Linked DNA regions of Homo sapiens. The protein of the gene in region 5 purifies or fractionates together with the protein of the main gene of each other region. This does not show direct contact. Each region holds a gene or a part of one and is shown on either strand. Other genes may lie near its edges. The genes, in order: CTU1, TULP3, UGGT1, CAMK2D and ACBD6.

The links.
Region 1: the proteins of ACBD6 (region 5) and CTU1 purify together in Homo sapiens (affinity purification with mass spectrometry; one large-scale study listed by BioGRID and IntAct). This does not show direct contact.
Region 2: the proteins of ACBD6 (region 5) and TULP3 purify together in Homo sapiens (affinity purification with mass spectrometry; one large-scale study listed by BioGRID and IntAct). This does not show direct contact.
Region 3: the proteins of ACBD6 (region 5) and UGGT1 purify together in Homo sapiens (pull-down; one study listed by IntAct). This does not show direct contact.
Region 4: the proteins of ACBD6 (region 5) and CAMK2D purify together in Homo sapiens (pull-down; one study listed by IntAct). This does not show direct contact.

Annotation. Positions count from the first base shown.
Region 1 is NC_000019.10:51,098,394-51,101,913, reverse strand, and holds part of CTU1 (cytoplasmic tRNA 2-thiolation protein 1), read left to right. Parts: intron 1-2,774; coding exon 2,775-3,313; 3' UTR 3,314-3,520.
Region 2 is NC_000012.12:2,935,871-2,938,764, forward strand, and holds part of TULP3 (tubby-related protein 3), read left to right. Parts: intron 1-1,760; coding exon 1,761-1,859; intron 1,860-2,243; coding exon 2,244-2,415; intron 2,416-2,894. UniProt on the Homo sapiens protein: Negative regulator of the Shh signaling transduction pathway: recruited to primary cilia via association with the IFT complex A (IFT-A) and is required for recruitment of G protein-coupled receptor GPR161 to cilia, a promoter of PKA-dependent basal repression machinery in Shh signaling.
Region 3 is NC_000002.12:128,181,700-128,185,219, forward strand, and holds part of UGGT1 (UDP-glucose:glycoprotein glucosyltransferase 1 precursor), read left to right. Parts: intron 1-430; coding exon 431-591; intron 592-1,975; coding exon 1,976-2,090; intron 2,091-3,520. UniProt on the Homo sapiens protein: Recognizes glycoproteins with minor folding defects. Reglucosylates single N-glycans near the misfolded part of the protein, thus providing quality control for protein folding in the endoplasmic reticulum.
Region 4 is NC_000004.12:113,499,728-113,503,247, reverse strand, and holds part of CAMK2D (calcium/calmodulin-dependent protein kinase type II subunit delta), read left to right. Parts: intron 1-270; coding exon 271-312; intron 313-2,736; coding exon 2,737-2,785; intron 2,786-3,520. UniProt on the Homo sapiens protein: Calcium/calmodulin-dependent protein kinase involved in the regulation of Ca(2+) homeostatis and excitation-contraction coupling (ECC) in heart by targeting ion channels, transporters and accessory proteins involved in Ca(2+) influx into the myocyte, Ca(2+) release from the sarcoplasmic reticulum (SR), SR Ca(2+) uptake and Na(+) and K(+) channel transport.
Region 5 is NC_000001.11:180,492,565-180,496,084, forward strand, and holds part of ACBD6 (acyl-CoA-binding domain-containing protein 6), read right to left. Parts: intron 2,962-3,520; coding exon 2,897-2,961; intron 1-2,896. UniProt on the Homo sapiens protein: Binds long-chain acyl-coenzyme A molecules with a strong preference for unsaturated C18:1-CoA, lower affinity for unsaturated C20:4-CoA, and very weak affinity for saturated C16:0-CoA. Does not bind fatty acids. Plays a role in protein N-myristoylation.

The DNA.
Region 1 (3,520 bases), on a different chromosome or scaffold from region 5:
TGACTTGCAAGGTGATTTCTACCCTTTGTTTATACACTCCATTTTCAAAGGCGTAGTATAATAATTGTTGTAATAATTATTACAAAACTGGGAGCTCTTAAGTGGGTTTGTAATGACAAGGTGTGGAGCAAATCCAGTCTCCCCTAATTAATGTGGTTTACAACTTTAAGTCAATAAACATTCAACGAGATGTCGTTTGCAGTAGCAAACATGCCCAATCTCAAGGTCACAGGGCTTGGCAGGTCTTTGGGAGGTAACCATTACTACAAACACAATTAGAGCCAAGTTCTTGGAGGTTTTTTACCATATAGACCAGGGCCTCTCAACTTCAGCCCTATTGATATTTGGGGCCAGATAGTTTGTTTTTAGGGAGCTGTCCTCTGTGTTATAGGATTTTAGCAGTATCCCTGGCCTCTACCCACTAGATGCTATTTAATAGTAGTGCCCCACCCCCAACCTGACACACAGAAATGTCTCCAGCCATTGCCAAATGTCTCTGGGGGAGGGAAGGAGGGCAGACTCATCCCAGATTGAGAACCACTGATATAGACTCAAGTATAACTTGACAAGACACAGAACAAGTTTAGCTTCAATTTCATGGTGACCAGTGTGTAAATATTTCTCACTGTTACTTCTAAACAAAGATAACACAAAAACACTGCAGTGATTACAGGGGTGGTGACACATGCTAGTAATCCCAGCCGCTTTGGGAGGCCGAGGCAGGTGGATCACTTGAGCTCAGAGGAGTTCAAGACCAGCCTGGCCAACATGGAGAAACTGCGTCTGTATAGAAATACAAAAATTAGCTGGGCATGGTGGCACACACCTGTGGTCCCAGCTACTCTGGAGGCTGAGGCAGGGGGATCACTTAAGCCCTGGAGACAGAGGTTGCAGTGAGCTGAGATCGTGCCACTGTCCTCCAGCCTGGGCACTAAAGTGAGACCCTGTCTCAAACACACACACACACACACACACACACGCACAATAAAACAAAATGAAAAAAAAAAACCATAAAAAAACTACAGTCTGGGTTGTCAGAGGCTCTGTGTCAAGAACCAGTTGTTTTCTCTGGCTGCTGTAACAAATTACTTCAAATTTCACAGCTTTAAACAACACAGATTTATTATCTTGTAGTTCTGTAGATAGAAGTCTGGGAAGTCTCACCGGGCTAAAATCAAAGTGTCAAGAGTGCTGCCTTTCTCCTGGAGGCTCTGGGGCAAGGGGGTCCATTTCCTTGCCTTTTCCAGCTTCCGGAGGCTGCCCACATTCCTGGCTGATGGTCCCTTCCTCCATTTTCTTTTCTTTTTTTTCTTTTGAGACAGAGTCTTGCTGTGGAGCCCAGGCTGGAGTGCAGTGGAGTGATCTCGGCTCACTGCAACCTCTCCCTCCCAGGTTCAAGAGATTCTCATGCCTCAGCTGGGGTTACAGGTGCCTGCCACCATGACCTGCTAATTTTTGTATTTTTAGTAGAGATGGGGGTTTTGCCATGTTGGCCAGGCTGGTCTCAAACTCGTGGCCTCAGGTGATTCTCCCACCTTAGCCTCCCAAAGTGCTGGGATTACAGGCATGAGCCACTGTGCCCGGCTCTTCCTCCATTTTCAAAGCCAAGGATGGCAGTTTGAGTCCTACACCGTTTGCATCACTCTAACCTTGCCTCTGCCCTCACACCCCCCATATGCAGTAGGCGGGTGGCAAATGAGGTATCCCCAAGTTCCCCAGGGAGCTTGTGTGTGTTCCCCTCTCAATTCCTGCTGTGTCCACCTCCAGCCACCACCTAGCTGCACCACAGTGCCCAGGGGGCTCCATGGCCCCATCTCCCTCTCCCGGTCTCTGGGTCCTGGCTGTCCTATGGTGCCAGAGGGGCTCCATGGCTCAGGCTTCCCCTCCCCATCTCTCTCTGGGTCCTGGCTGCCCACTATGTTCAAAGGTCTCCATGGCCCTATCTCTCCCTTTTCTGCCTCCCTCCTCCCCTCTAAGGGTCTTTGTGATTACCTTGAGCGCACCTGGATAACGCACCATTCTGTCCCTATTGTAAAGTCAGCTGATTAGCAGCCCCAATTCAACTTGCAACCTTAATTCCCCTTTGTCCTACAACCAAACATATTAACAGGTTCCCAGAATTAGGCCATGGATTCCCTAGGCGGTGGGGGAGACAGCAGCCTGCCTACCCCTCCAGCTCTCCTGAGAATCTCGGTTAAATGCCTTAAATGCCTTCTGATTTTTGTGTACAGTTTGAATTACGGTTTTAACTGAGGCTGATAAGGTTATTAGCAGCATAATGCACTTTTACTCCCTATATGAAAGGGCAACTAGCATAAGGTCCGCTATGCAGTAGGCGGGTGGTACATGAAGGCACGCCCAAGTTGCGCCAGGGGAGCTTATGTTTCTCTTTGATTTTTTGTTGTGTCCACCTGCAGCCTGCACCTGGCTGCTTCACGGTTCCCGGAGGGTCTCCATGGCTCGCTCTTGCCCTCCCCGTCTCTCTCTGCGTCCTGGTTGCCCACAGTGCCCTAGGGGTCTCCATGGCTCTCTCTCCCCCTCCCTGTCTCTGGATCCTGGCTGTCACACCATGTTTGGGGGTCTGTCTCCATGGCTTGCTCTCCCCGTCGCCGTCTCTCTCTGGGTCCTGGCGGCCCCACTGTGCCCTGGGTCTCCGTGGGTCTCTCCTCCCAGTCTCTCTCTGGGTCCTGGTGGACCCTTGGTTCCCCGGGGGGCTCCCTGGCCAGCAGCGCCCTCCGCGCCCCACCTCACCCGCTCCCTTCTCTCCCCACCAGGTCACAACGCCGACGACATGGCGGAGACCGTGCTCATGAACTTCCTACGGGGCGACGCGGGGCGGCTGGCCCGGGGCGGGGGCCTGGGCTCTCCCGGCGAGGGGGGCGCCCTGCCGCGCTGCCGCCCGCTGCAGTTCGCCTCGCAGAAGGAGGTGGTGCTGTACGCGCACTTCCGCCGCCTCGACTACTTCTCCGAGGAGTGCGTCTACGCGCCCGAGGCCTTCCGCGGCCACGCCCGGGACCTGCTCAAGCGCCTGGAGGCGGCGCGGCCGTCCGCGGTGCTGGACCTCGTGCACTCGGCCGAGCGCCTGGCGCTGGCCCCGGCCGCGCGGCCCCCGCGCCCCGGCGCCTGCTCCCGCTGTGGGGCGCTGGCCAGCCGCGCGCTCTGCCAGGCCTGCGCGCTCCTGGACGGCCTGAACCGCGGCCGGCCCCGCCTGGCCATCGGCAAGGGCCGCCGGGGTCTGGACGAGGAGGCGACGCCGGGGACGCCCGGGGATCCGGCCCGGCCCCCCGCCTCCAAGGCCGTCCCCACCTTCTAGCGACTTCGGGCCTCCCGCCGGGATCTGATGCCGCGGGGTGGGGGCTGCCTGTAAATGACACTGTGAATAAACCCGTTACCTTACCTGGCCTTCCATGTGGGGTTGGGAAGGAGACGGGGGCCCATTCACCTGAAACCCTGAAGAAGCTGGGACCCCAGACTTCGAGGTCTCAGGGAAGAAGGGTCTCGAACTGGGCTTCAGGCTCTG
Region 2 (2,894 bases), on a different chromosome or scaffold from region 5:
GGCAAGAGGATCACCTGAGTCTTAGGAGGGTCGAGGCTGCAGTGAGCCGTGATCACACCATGCACTCTAGCCTGGGCGACAGCATGAGACCCTGTTTAAAAAATAATAATAATCGGCCAGGCGTGGTGGCTCACGCCTGTAATCCCAGCACTTTGGGAGGCCGAGGCCGGTGGATCACCTGAAGTCAGGAGGTGGAGACCAGCCTGGCCAACATGGCAAAAACCCGTCTCTACTAAAAATACAAAAAAAATTAGCCAGGCGTGGTGGCAGGCACCTGTAATCCCAGCTACTCGGGAGGCTGAGGCAGGAGAATCGCTTGAACCCAGGAGGCAGAGGTTGCAATGAGCCAAGATTGTGCCACTGCACTCCAGCCTGGGTGACAGAGCAAGACGCCATCTCAAAATAAAATAAGAATAATCTGCTTGGCTTGACAGGCATTTTTAATACCTAGTGCAGGCCTTATTTAACCACAACTAATTTTCACTGTATGTAATATAGTGCTATGCCCTCACTGGGAAATAAATATGTGTTGGTGCTGACAAAGTTGAACAGTTTGTTCACAGTTATCTCAAATCACATTTAAGACTCAAGAGTAAGAGGCCGGGCGTGGTGGCTCACTCCTGTAGTCACAGCACCTTGGGAGGCCAAGATGGGCGGATCACCTGAGGTCGGGAATTCGAGACCAACATGGAGAAACCCCGTCTCGACTAAAAAAAAAAAAAAAATACAAAATTAGCCGGGTGTGGTGGCGCATGCCTATAATCCCAGCTACTCAGGCTGAGGCAGGAAAATTGCTTGAACCCGGGAGGCGGAGGTTGTGGTGAGCTGAGATTGTGCCATTATACTCCAGCCTGGGCAACAAGAGTGAAACTCTGGTCCCAAAAAAAAAATAGTTAAGAGTAAACTCTCAAGCCAAGAGATTCTGTTTTAAATGTAGGTGTTTAAAGAAGGTATAGGCCAGGTGCAGTGGCTCACGCCTGTAATCCCAGCACTTTGGGAGGCTGAGGCAGGCAGATCACGAGGTCAGGAGATCGAGACCATCCTAGCCAACTTGGTGAAACCCCGTCTCTACTAAAAATACAAAAAATAATTAGCCAGGCGTGGTGGCATGCGCCTGTAGTCCCAGGCTGAGGCACAGGAATCGCTTGAACCCAGGAGGTGGAGATTGGAGGTTGCAGTGAGCTGAGATTGTGCCACTGCACTCCAGCCTGGCGACAGAGCGTGACTCTGTCTCAAAAAAAAAAAGAGAAGTATAAAGAGATATAATATTACTTTCCTGTTTTTGATTCTGTTTACAGCAAAGTAATAAAATTATTTTTGGTACACCTGATTTTTTTTTTTTTTTTTTTTTTTTTTTTTTTCTGAGGCAGAGTCTCACTCTTGTCGCCCAGGCTGGAGTGCAACGGCGTGATCTCGGCTCACTGCAGCCTCTGCCTCCTGGGTTCAAGCAATTCTCCTGCCTCAGCCTCCCGAGTAGCTGGGATTACAGGCGCCTGCCACCACGCCTGGCTAATTTTTGTATTTTTAGTAGAGACAGGGTTTCACCATGTTGGCCAGGCTGGTCTCAAACTCCTGACCTCAGGTTATCTGCCCACCTCGGCCTCCCAAAGTGCTGGGATTATAGGCGTGATCCACTGCCCCGGCTGATACAGCTGATATTGTCAGCATCTTACATTCCCAAGAAAGTCTCATGTTATAAAAGAATGTGGTCTCTATTTTTTTCCTGTTTCCAAGTTCTGCTTTGTTTTCCTATCTTCCAGGAAACAAACGTACTTGGATTTAAAGGTCCTAGGAAAATGTCTGTGATCATTCCTGGAATGACACTGAATCATAAGCAGATCCCCTATCAGCCACAAAACGTGAGTAAGAATGTATTTAAATCAGTGAAAGACTCTAAAAGACAGTAGTACAATACACAGAGATTAATACAAAAAAAAAAAAAAAGATTGAGCTTCCAGAGCCCCACACTGGAGATAGCTCCATACACTTCTTTAGGAAAGCTGCCCCTCCAAAACCTCAGGATAAGAGCAGTTGCAGAGTCATTGCCTTGAAACCATTTTTTCTACAAAGAGAAATGCTGGATGATGTAGAATAATTTTAAAAAAAACCTGTCTTCATTGTTGGCTTTCATTCTTCGCTTCTGGTTTACCCTTTCTGAAATGGAGAAAGTATTCTCCTACTCTACCTTCTACCTCGTAGAGTTGGAGTTCTCAGTACAAAGTAATGATTTTCCCTTTGGACAGAACCATGACAGTTTGCTCTCAAGGTGGCAGAACAGAACTATGGAAAATCTGGTTGAGCTGCACAACAAGGCCCCCGTCTGGAACAGTGACACTCAGTCCTATGTCCTCAACTTCCGTGGCCGGGTCACTCAGGCGTCTGTGAAGAACTTCCAGATAGTCCACAAAAATGACCGTAAGCCTCCAGGAGGGGTTGGGTGGGAAGAGGAGGACAGATGCTCTTACAGGATGGGAATGCACATTCCCTGTACATGATAGGAAGTGACAGTCAGCAGATAATCATGGAGGAGAGACAGGATTTCTTTGGAAAGATGAAACTACAGTTTTAGAGAAAACTTGTAAATCACTGTGTTGAGGAGGGGAGAGGAGTGTGAGAGAGATGCTATAGCAAATCAGAGAAGTTGGCTGGGCACCATGGCTCACGTCTGTAATCCCAGCACTTTGGGAGGCCGAGGTGGGCAGATCGCTTGAGACCAGCCTGGGCAACATGGTGTGAAACCCCATCTCTACAAAAAATAGAAAAATTAGCTGGGCGTGGTGGCAGGCACTTGTAGTCCCAGCTACCCGGGAGGCTGAGGTGGGAGCATCACTTGAGCCAGGAGGTCGAGGCTGCAGTGAGCTGAGATTGCATCACTGCTCTCCAGCCTGGGTGAC
Region 3 (3,520 bases), on a different chromosome or scaffold from region 5:
AAGTGTGCCTTCCTGATTGTAACATAGCCACATTTAATCCTTGTTGAGTACTTACGATGGGCAAGGCATTATTCTACATCTGTCCATCCATATGTTAACTTACATAATCCTCCCAGCAACCCTGTGAGATAGGTACTGTCATTATCATTATCTCCATTTTACAGATGAAGAAACTGAGGCACAGAAAGGCTAAGCAGTTGAAATTTGTTTTATTCCTACTCCCACACACCTTGCTAAGAAGTGTCTTACATGTTAGTGAGTCAACCAGGTAATAAGTGGAGCAATCAAAGTGCATCTGCCCCTAGTGCCTGTGCCACTAACCACGGAGCAGCCTTCCATGCTGCCTTAAGCGAGCCACTCTGTATCTGAAGGAAACCGCATTAGAGCTGTCTGCATGGTTGCTTAACAAATGACTTTTTATATTCTCCAGATTGTACGAACAGATCTGAAAGAGTTAAGAGATTTCAATTTGGATGGTGCTCCTTATGGTTACACTCCTTTCTGTGACAGCCGAAGAGAAATGGACGGCTACAGGTTCTGGAAGTCAGGGTACTGGGCCAGTCATTTAGCCGGGCGAAAGTATCATATCAGGTACTGAAAAGAAGCACTCCTAACACTGTTACGGGGTTTTCCTTAAAATTGATTTTGTGTGGTTAAAATTGTGAATAGGTAATACATTGGTATGGTTGAAAAATAAAAATGATAAAAAATACACAGTGGCTGGGTGCAGTGGCTCATGCCTTAATCCCAGCACTTTGGGATGCCAAGGCAGGTGGATCACCTGAGGTCAGGATTTCAAGACCAGCCTGGCCAACATGGCGAAACCCCGTCTCTACTAAAAATACAAAAATTAGCTGGGCATGGTGGTGGGCGCCTGTAATCCCAGCTACTCGGGAGGCTAAGGCAGGAGAATTGCTTGAACCCAGGAGGCGGAGGTTGCAGTGAGCTGAGATCACGCCGCTGCACTCCAGCCTGGATGACAGAGTGAGATTCCATCTCAAAAAAAAAAAAAAATACAGTGTAAAAAAAACTTCCTAATCCTGTCTCTCTCTTTCCTACTCAGTTCCTGTTCTCACAGCAGATAACCTCCCAACTTATTGACTGTCTATCCTTCCAGATTTTCTTAATTCTTACAGAAACAGCTGTGAATGTGTATTCTTTTTTTTTTTACACAAAATATGCTACCTATTTATACATTTTGTAACTTGGCTTTTTTTTTTTTTTTTTTACTTAATGTCATATACATCTTCTCAGTGAATAGAGAGAGACCTGATTCCTTTTCATAGCTGCATATTATTCCAGTGTGTGAGTGTTATTTATAGTTTTCCCTGTGACCTACAATGTTGCAATGAATAATCTACTAAATAATTTTTCATATCTCATATATTTGTGAGATAAATTCCTAGACGTAGACCTTTTAGGTCGAACAGTGTGTGTGTTGTTACATTTCTAATGAGCACCCCATTCTCTTCTCTGCGAGAAGTGTGATTTGAAGATGTGCAGGGAAGAGGAACGTGTAGGAAGCGGCACATGCAGAGATCACTGCTGGGGTTTAGTGATGGTGGCTTCATTCTTTACATTCCTGGTCCAAAAGAACTGTAAGGACTGTAACACTCTGGGGTTTTCCCCCCCCTGTAACATTGAAGACATCATCAGGATATCATTGAATAATGGTTGTTTATCAGTTACTATGGCTTTTGTTACTGCCGCATATGCTAGAAATCTTTGGTCTGAGATTATTTCTTTCGGATGGCAAATACAGAACAGTAACAAAAGCATAGCACAGTATAGATTTTGCAGTGACTTTCTTAGAGATCTTTAAAGTAGCACACTTTAACTCCACTGTAGGGCTGTAGCATACCTTTTCAAAGAAAAGCCAGAATATTTGGCTAGTGGCCTGTTCCATTATTCATTGGGTTTAGTTTTCCTGTCGTAATCCATGGTTGGTTGTAACAAGCGGGTCTTCTTTATTCAGTGCACTATATGTTGTGGATCTGAAGAAGTTTAGGAAAATAGCTGCTGGTGACAGACTCAGGGGACAGTACCAAGGTCTGAGTCAGGACCCTAACAGCCTTTCAAATCTTGATCAAGTAAGTGTCCATTTTTTATGGTTAACTGTGAGTGACGGGTATACAGTGTTGCATCAGAAAATGAAGTATTACTTGTGTCTTCAGTCCTCTCCTCACAGGATGGCGTCTTGTTTTTTCATGGTGTGTGTGTGTGTGTGTGTGTGTGTGTGAGAGAGAGAGAGAGAGAGAGAGATTTTTATCTGCCCTCAAGACATATCAGCGTGAAAAATGTCATAGATTTGATGCTGGCTGGGGAGAGAGATGGAAGGAGAATGCTGCCTCTCTGAACCATTAGCATATCTTTGTATTTTGTACTCAAACTAATCTCATAGGTTTGTTTCTCTACCTACTAGGGTCAGTTTGTTTTTCTGCTGTAGGAACTAAATAGCTCAGGATTCGTAGTATAGAATCACAGTATAGTATCACAGCTTCCCCTTTTTCTATGTCAGAAACCATGATGTGTTTCAAGGCTAGCTAAATTACTGTTTGTTAATGTTAAGCATTTTTCAGAGGTGAGATTGTAGTTTAAGGGTTTTGGATACATATTTCACATATTTTAAGCATTTTATTTTGCTTAAGTCTACTTAAATGTTTTTAAACCTTTATTGTGATATGTAGCATCCATAAAGAAAAGTATACAAAAAACATACATACATATTCACATACATCCAGGAATTATTATGAAGCAAATACCCAGATACCACAACCTAGTTCAAGAACTAGAACATTATCAGCATCCCAGAAGCCATCCTTCCTCCCTAACAAAAGTGTCTAGCATCACGACTTTTATGGTAATCATTTTTGTTTCTTTATAGATTTACTGTTTAAGCATGTATCCATAAACACTAGTTTAATTTGCTCATTTTCTTCTCCTCTATCTCAATGGAATAATAAAAGGTAAACTTTTTTGTTTGTTTGTTTGTTTTGAGACAGAATCTCACTCTGTTTCCCAGGCTGGAGTGCAGTGGCATGCTCTGGGTTGCACTCACTGCAACCTCCACCTCCCGGGTTCAAGTGATCCTCCTGCCTCAGCCTCCTGAGTAACTAGGATTACAGGCACGCACCACCACTCCTGGCTAATTTTTGTATTTTCAGTAGAGACAGGGTTTCACCATGTTGGCCAGGCTGGTCTCAAACTCCTGACCTCAAGTGATCCACCCGCTTTGGCCTCCCAAAGTGCCGGGATTACAATCACGAGCCACAGTGCCCGGCTCTACTTACTTTAAAATTTGTGTGATACCTGGTATCTTCTAATTTATGGAGCTACTATGGATCTGATTCTGTTGTATTATTTCTGTTATTCTTTTGTTCATACTGTCTATCACATATTTGTTTATCTTCTGTAGTGTGTCAGGCGTTGTTTTTGCAGAATTATTTTGGGGAATAATTTGAGTTCAAAAATGGTATCACCCAACAGTATTTGTTTCTCTCTTTTTTTTTTTTTTTTGGAG
Region 4 (3,520 bases), on a different chromosome or scaffold from region 5:
CTCTAAATATCAAAGCCTTGTTTGAATGCTGATCAAGAATAAGGTCTTTTGCATGCTGCTTCTGGGTAGGGAGGTTCCTATCTCATGGCCTCGCCAGGGAGATCTTTCATCAGAGATATTGTCAGCTGCAACTCTGACAGCAGTTAACATCGCTTTAGCTCTTGTCACTATTTCATTTTGTCAGCTGGCTCACTCTGCTCTGTCCTTCACACTAGAAAGAATGTACTTACCAATGCGAACTGTTTCTTTCTCTATTTTGTTCTCACTCAGGAGCCCCAAACTACTGTAATCCACAACCCTGATGGAAACAAGGTATTCAGAAAGAATCAACATCATCTTGCTTTAACAAGACTATACATCTCATCAAATATTCAAAAAAATTAATTCGTTATCTAAAAATAGGAAAGAAAATTCTAACCATTTTCTACCACACTTCCTTTTGGGCCTAATTTATCTAGAACTATGGACATACTTCTTGCAAATAAAAATGAATGACATCTTGAAAGAGAAACTAATGTTACCATGAGTCAATAAAAGTCAGGCTAAACATGAATGAAGTCTTTATGTCAAGATGACTGTGTGTCTTAAGCAATTCCATCTGGTCATTTTTTTCCCCATGACTTTGTGCTTTGTACTGTAGATATATTGTGCATGATATTTTAGAATTTCTGGCAATATTCCATTGTCTTCAAAAATATCAACTTGACTTTATAGGTTTTTTTTTTTGTTTAGTGTTACTTTTGAGTTTTATTCTATTCTGTTGTCAGAGTGGTGTTTTTTTTTTTTTTGGTTTTTGGTTTCTTAATTCCTTGTTGGTGATGATGTTGTTATTGTTGTTATTGTTGTTGTTGTTGTTGTTGTTTGGCATGAATTTGAGGTGAATCAAGGAGTTTCACTTTTTGTGAAATATGTTTGTTGTTGAGTAATATATATTCCAGTAACAGGGGTTTAACTACTTAGGTTGAAAGAAGACTAAATGTTTCCTATACATTGTAAATTATTTGTATAGCATGTTAACTAAATAACAGCACTAGCATACATGTCTATAGGATGAAAGACCTTTTCTGAATGTATTCCATGTGTCCAATTTCTTACTTTTCATATATTATTATATCTCTAAGGGAAGAAAAAATACTAAACTTTTCTCAAATATTAGATATAGTCATGCATCTTCTCCATACTCTTATCAATGATGTTTAAGACTTAGAAAGCACATTTTATCTTAAGACTCAGAAAACACATTTCCTCTCTGGTTTAACATTTAATTGATCAATATTAAAACCATTAAAGTAAAAAACATGAAGTGTTATGTTCTTTAATATGAGATTTATTTTATAGTCATGACACTGCAAATGGTCTAGGTCCCGAAAAGCCTTGAGGTAGTCAGGACCATCACATATGAGAACAATTTTTTTAATAGCATTAGCCAATGAAACGCCAAGCATAACAGCTGGAATGGACACTTCAGTAGTTCTAGCTATATCATTTGTAAGAGTTGCTGCATGATATTTCTTGCTGACATGAATTAGTTTAATTTTACAGTGCATGGGTTTACCTTCATTTTCAGCTTACATTTGAATACTAGGTCACATTAAGAAATGCATGAAGATTCCTTTCTTTGGTTTTGTGTGTATGGAGACTCTGGGTACACCTTTAATTAGTTTTTCCCTTGGTTTAAATATTGTATATGATATTTATATAAATTGATCACTTTTTTGAATACTGAATCTCTAAAATGATACTGGCTGGTGTTTACATTATTTTCCAGAATCTGTTTTCCATTACTGAGCTATTGATTGGAAGTTTGTTTCCAGTTATTTTTGGCTCTAGCATTTAATCATTCCAAGTAGAAAACTATGTCTTTCTTATGAATATTGCAAAATTTATTTGCTAGAAAATATTTTACTCATACATTATTAATGAGCACATTTATCACACCATTTTAAGAAATGTATCTTAATTCTGGCAGTTACAGTGTACTTTTAAGTGTGCTTAACAATCTTCCACTTAATTTGTAGTTTTACAAAGAAAGAGCTTTGTCTTTTTATTATGGAGTAGGTTTCTTATCAATAACAGCCAGTTGCTATTTTTGAAAAGAATGAAAAAAGTCTAATTGTCCTTGAAAGTAAATTATTCATTATAATTCCATTGTGCTGAGGACAAACATGAAAATTCTTCTCAAAAGTACTTTCAGCATATCTCAGCTTAACCCCCTTAGCTTCTTCATTAAATGATGCGGTGAAATGCTTTCTCTCCCTATAAAGGTGTAAGGCATACAGGCCTTAACATAGTGCCTGACGCAAAGAAGGTACTCTTTATTGATTAATTAATTGGGAATAGAAATTTTTTCTATTTTAAGTATCAAATTCATTCGGCTAACATATTCAATTGCTTGTAGACACACAGAAAAAGCAAACCTTATAGGGCACTGTAACACAAAACACATCCTTACACAGTTTCTAAAATAAACTGCATACTTCCGCTGCTTCTACAAATCACCTGGATTTATACAGCTTCGGAGATTAGGCAACCAGAGTACTCCGTTTGAAATGTTTGCAGCATCAGACATTTTATTTCTGTTAAAAACCACTTAATGTGTTTGTCCATTTGCATGTCAGCATATGCACATAGCCTGCTGAAGAATTTTGCATGATATGTATGTCACTAGCCAATTTTTAAGGAGGAAATCAAGCTATTCATTGCGTGCAACCTAAAAATGTGTTTTCTTCTCATCAGGAGTCAACTGAGAGTTCAAATACAACAATTGAGGATGAAGATGTGAAAGGTATGATTTAACCAGAAATGGAAAATCCTACCTCAGAGCTTCACATATATATATGAAAAAAAAAGTGCTTCAAATAACTAATAAGTTTAGGAAGTAGGCCTATCCTAAAGCACAAAAATATTTTATTTATGAGTAAAAAATATTTTTATAAGTACATAATTATTTCAACAATATGTTACTTTTGTCATTTTTCCTACATATTCTTTTATATATTTTGAACTGTAGACATGTAGCATATTCTAGCACATTGCAGTAATGACAACTAATAATGAGTTACTAGTTATAGGAACATAACAAATTGTAAATTTGTCAGTCAAAAAGTAATATAAAATGTATACACATTGGGTACATTCATAAAACCTATCTGGAAAACAATTTATATTCAAGGATACAGTATAAAAATAACTTTTTAACTTTTAGTCATCTCAAATAATATCAGTAGAATTTTCTATTTGGCCGCCTTTTTATCCTAGCTTTTTGTGTACATTCCAAAGGTATTCTTGACCTCCATTCACTTTGGTTGCCAAGGTTCTTTTAGCTACATGTATGAGTCATTGGTAGTGTTTCTACAGACATCTTCTCAGTGCCCCTGCACACACATACTGAACACACATTTGCAGTTAGGTCACCTCCTTTGGCCACATCACTGTTTTAGAAGTATTACTTTTGTATCAATTGCATTTGCAGTTTTATGTTGTTTTTGTAATTCATTATATATAACTACAGTCTCTATAG
Region 5 (3,520 bases):
TTTTCAGACATTTTTTTTCCTAATCGTCCTCCCCGTGAAATTTTAAAAACACAGATACAATGCATAGCTATTAAATTTTGAAAGACCACAAACCACTGTAATCTAAGATTTTATAATTTCCTCAAACAAAATTTCACCCCTATTGAGGATATATGATCTACAGACTAATAGAGATTATTCTCATAAATTAACTGTGCTTATGGCATTTTGGTCGTACAGAAACTAATCATCACATAAAAAACAATATTCCCAAGGAAAATGCATCAAACTTCTTACTAAGATACAAGAAATCCACCTTCCCTTTCTGCTGTTATCTCATCTATAAGCTTCTAGTAACTGATCCTGGGGACTTAGTCTGGGACTTCAAAAGTAAGGGATGGTGAGGGCAGAAATAAGAATACTGGCCAGGCTTGGTGGCTCACGCCTGTAATCCCAGCACTTTGGGAGGCTGAGGCAGGTGGACCACCTGAGGTCAGGAGTTTGAGACCAGCCTGGCCAACATGGTGAAACCCCATCTCTACTAAAGATACAAAAATTAGCCAGGCGTGGTGGTGTGCGCCTGTAGTCCAGCTACTCTGGAGGCCGAGGCAGGAGAATTGCTTGAACCTGGGAGGCAGAGGTTGCAGTAAGCTGAGATGGCACCACCACACTCCAGCCTGGGCAACAGAGCAAAATTCTGTCTCAAAAAAAAAAAAAAAAAAAAAAAAAAAAAAACAACAACAGCAACTAAAGAATACTAATGAGTAAGTTAGGGACTTCCTACAATATAAATGGCAAAAGCAACATTTTAGTCCTGAGCTTCCTTTTGGGTCATCTACCCCCCTGCCCCCACAACAGGCTGCCAGGACAGGCCTTCTTCTTGGTTTTTCCCTGCCAATTCTTTCTAAATTCCAACCAGTGTTTCTCGATTTCCCTGATTTGCTGTCAAACAGAACTCAATCCCACATTTTTTCACTACCTTCCTGCTTCTATGATGAATATAATATCTTTCTGAGGTTTTCTAAATTTATTTTCACTGAATTCCTTAAGAATTACTTATACGCATCATAACACTTCATCCCTAAATAGATCAGCTTACACAAACTCAGGAAATTTATCATCAATTACTATTATACAATATAGAGGCTATACATTCAGATTTTCCTGATTGTCCCAATAATGTCCTTTATGGCTTTCTTCTCCCACACCAGGAACCAATCAAGATCCACACACAGCATTGAGTTTCATGTATCTTCAGCTTTTTTGTCTTCCACATTGTTGGTATTTTTTAAGAGTCCAACTGTTTTATAACATATCCCTCAATTTGAATTTGTCTAATTGTTTCCTTACCTACAGTGTTCTTGCCAAAAATGATTAATCATGATTAGAATTGGGTTAAATTATTTCAGCAGAGTAATATATAGGTGACATGCCCTTTTCAATGCATCACACTGGGGGCACGTGATGTTAGTCTGTCCCATCATCAATAAGATTCATGGTTTGGTAACGGCAGTAACTGTCAGGTTTCTCTCTCATAATTAAAAAGTAAATGGTGGGTCAGCCTGTAACCCACGGTTTTGCTCCCCAATAGTTTTTCACCTAGCATTTTAACAAAAATTTTCCTCAATAGTTTTTCTCTAACAGTTCCCCAATATTTTATCATCTAATATTTAATCATTCGTTGATGTTCTTGCATAAACTATTATTATGGTGGCTATAAAATCTAAATTTTTTAATTGCTAAAAACAATGGAGAAACAGGCAAAGCACAGAAAAAAATAAAGGTATAAAATTTCATAAATTATAACAAAAAACTCACTGTCAACGTTAACATCAGGTATTCTTTAGAACAGTAATAATATGTTGGCTGGTTATCATCAACCAAAAAACTTGTGCAAGAATATAATCAATGCACTGCTTCCTTCACTGAGACTGTCCTATACAAAAAAAAATCAGCTGAACTAAACAGCGTGGTTAGTGACATACGTGATTTATATCTGGGTTCAAGCTCTGTATCTCCTAACAGTTGGGTAACAAACAGTTGGCAGGCAGGAAATGTATCCAGGGGACCAGATTTTATGTGGGACTGCTCTAGAATGTAAAGTAAGAACCCATATTTTATCACTTCCTCTCTCTATAACCATATTTTATCTTTTTTCTTTTCTAACTCTACCTTCTAACCTTAATTCCAGGGCTGATGCTCCAAAGCCTTCCCTTCTATAACTAAGATTCCCAGTTGTATGCAATTTCTCTTCTTTCACTTAGACAAGGTAAGAGAAGATAAGGTCTCATAAATGACAAGGGGGAACTTCTGAATTATAAGTTAAAAAAGTTTGCAAAAGTATACTCTTTTTTTTATATATTCAGAGAAAAAGAGAAGTTAGTATCTGGTTTTGGCTTTTCACTGAATTTTTCCCTTCTTCCCAAGAGTACTATAAGCAGTTATTTACTGTGGCATGGGTGGGGCAAGGAACACAAGAGTAAGTAGCAAGAGACAGGGAGATAAAACTGGGACAAGGAAGATGGGTGAAAAATGGGGATTTATCCTGCTCTTCTGCCCTTCCCATCATTCTGGCCTTCTTCCAAAAATCCCTCCAGAGGGGAGAAGTGGTGATCCATTAGGGGTTGAATGACAGGAAAGGAAAATCTCAAGCAATAGCTCTCATGGTATTAAAATGTAAGGCATGTATGTCTGTTGTGAACCACTTATATTCCAACATGCTAGCATAAGAATCCTTCAGGAGACTTAGCTAAAAGTAGATTTCTTTAATCTCTCCCAATTGCCTGTCATTAGTACAATCTACAGCAGAGAGAGAGATTAATATAAAAATAATTCTTTAATCAGCTCACTGCTTTCTAATTCCTAAACACCTAAGCCATTTCCAACAACCTCATTAAAGATTCCAGGAATTTCTTACCATTTTTGCTTTCCTTCAAAATCAAAGAAGCTTGGTTTAGGAGTATTACAATTTCCAACTTTGACCTAAATGAGGGAAGGAAAATCAAGAACTTATTTTTCAAAGAAATGTCTGGGAAACTTTTCCTTTTCAAATGTATTATGTATATTCAGTAACCATAGGTTGGAAAATATTTGCATCTATATGGAATAGCAAAATTTAACATTCTTTGCCAAAGCAAACAAAAACAATCAAACAGAATCAAACATTACATACAGCCTACTTTGGCTTACTGCATAAAACAACTATTATCTAATACTGTAATACAGAAAAACTGTGATAAACGGTTGCACTTCGAAGTTAGTAGACTATATATAAGACAAGTTATCAATATAGATTAAATACTCTTTATTACCATGTATAAAGTAAAAGAATTTTTAATATGAAATTAATAAGGTTTAGAATTCATAATTTATCAGAATTCATAACACTGTTTCTTCATGCTGATTCTCATAACGCTATTAGCATTTTAACTCTCCAAAATTCCAGGGAAAACAGTGTACTACTTTTAAAGTACCCTATTATGAAATTCATCAATATAAATTTGGATGCCAAAAGCCATGCAAAAAATTTCATGGGTTCTCA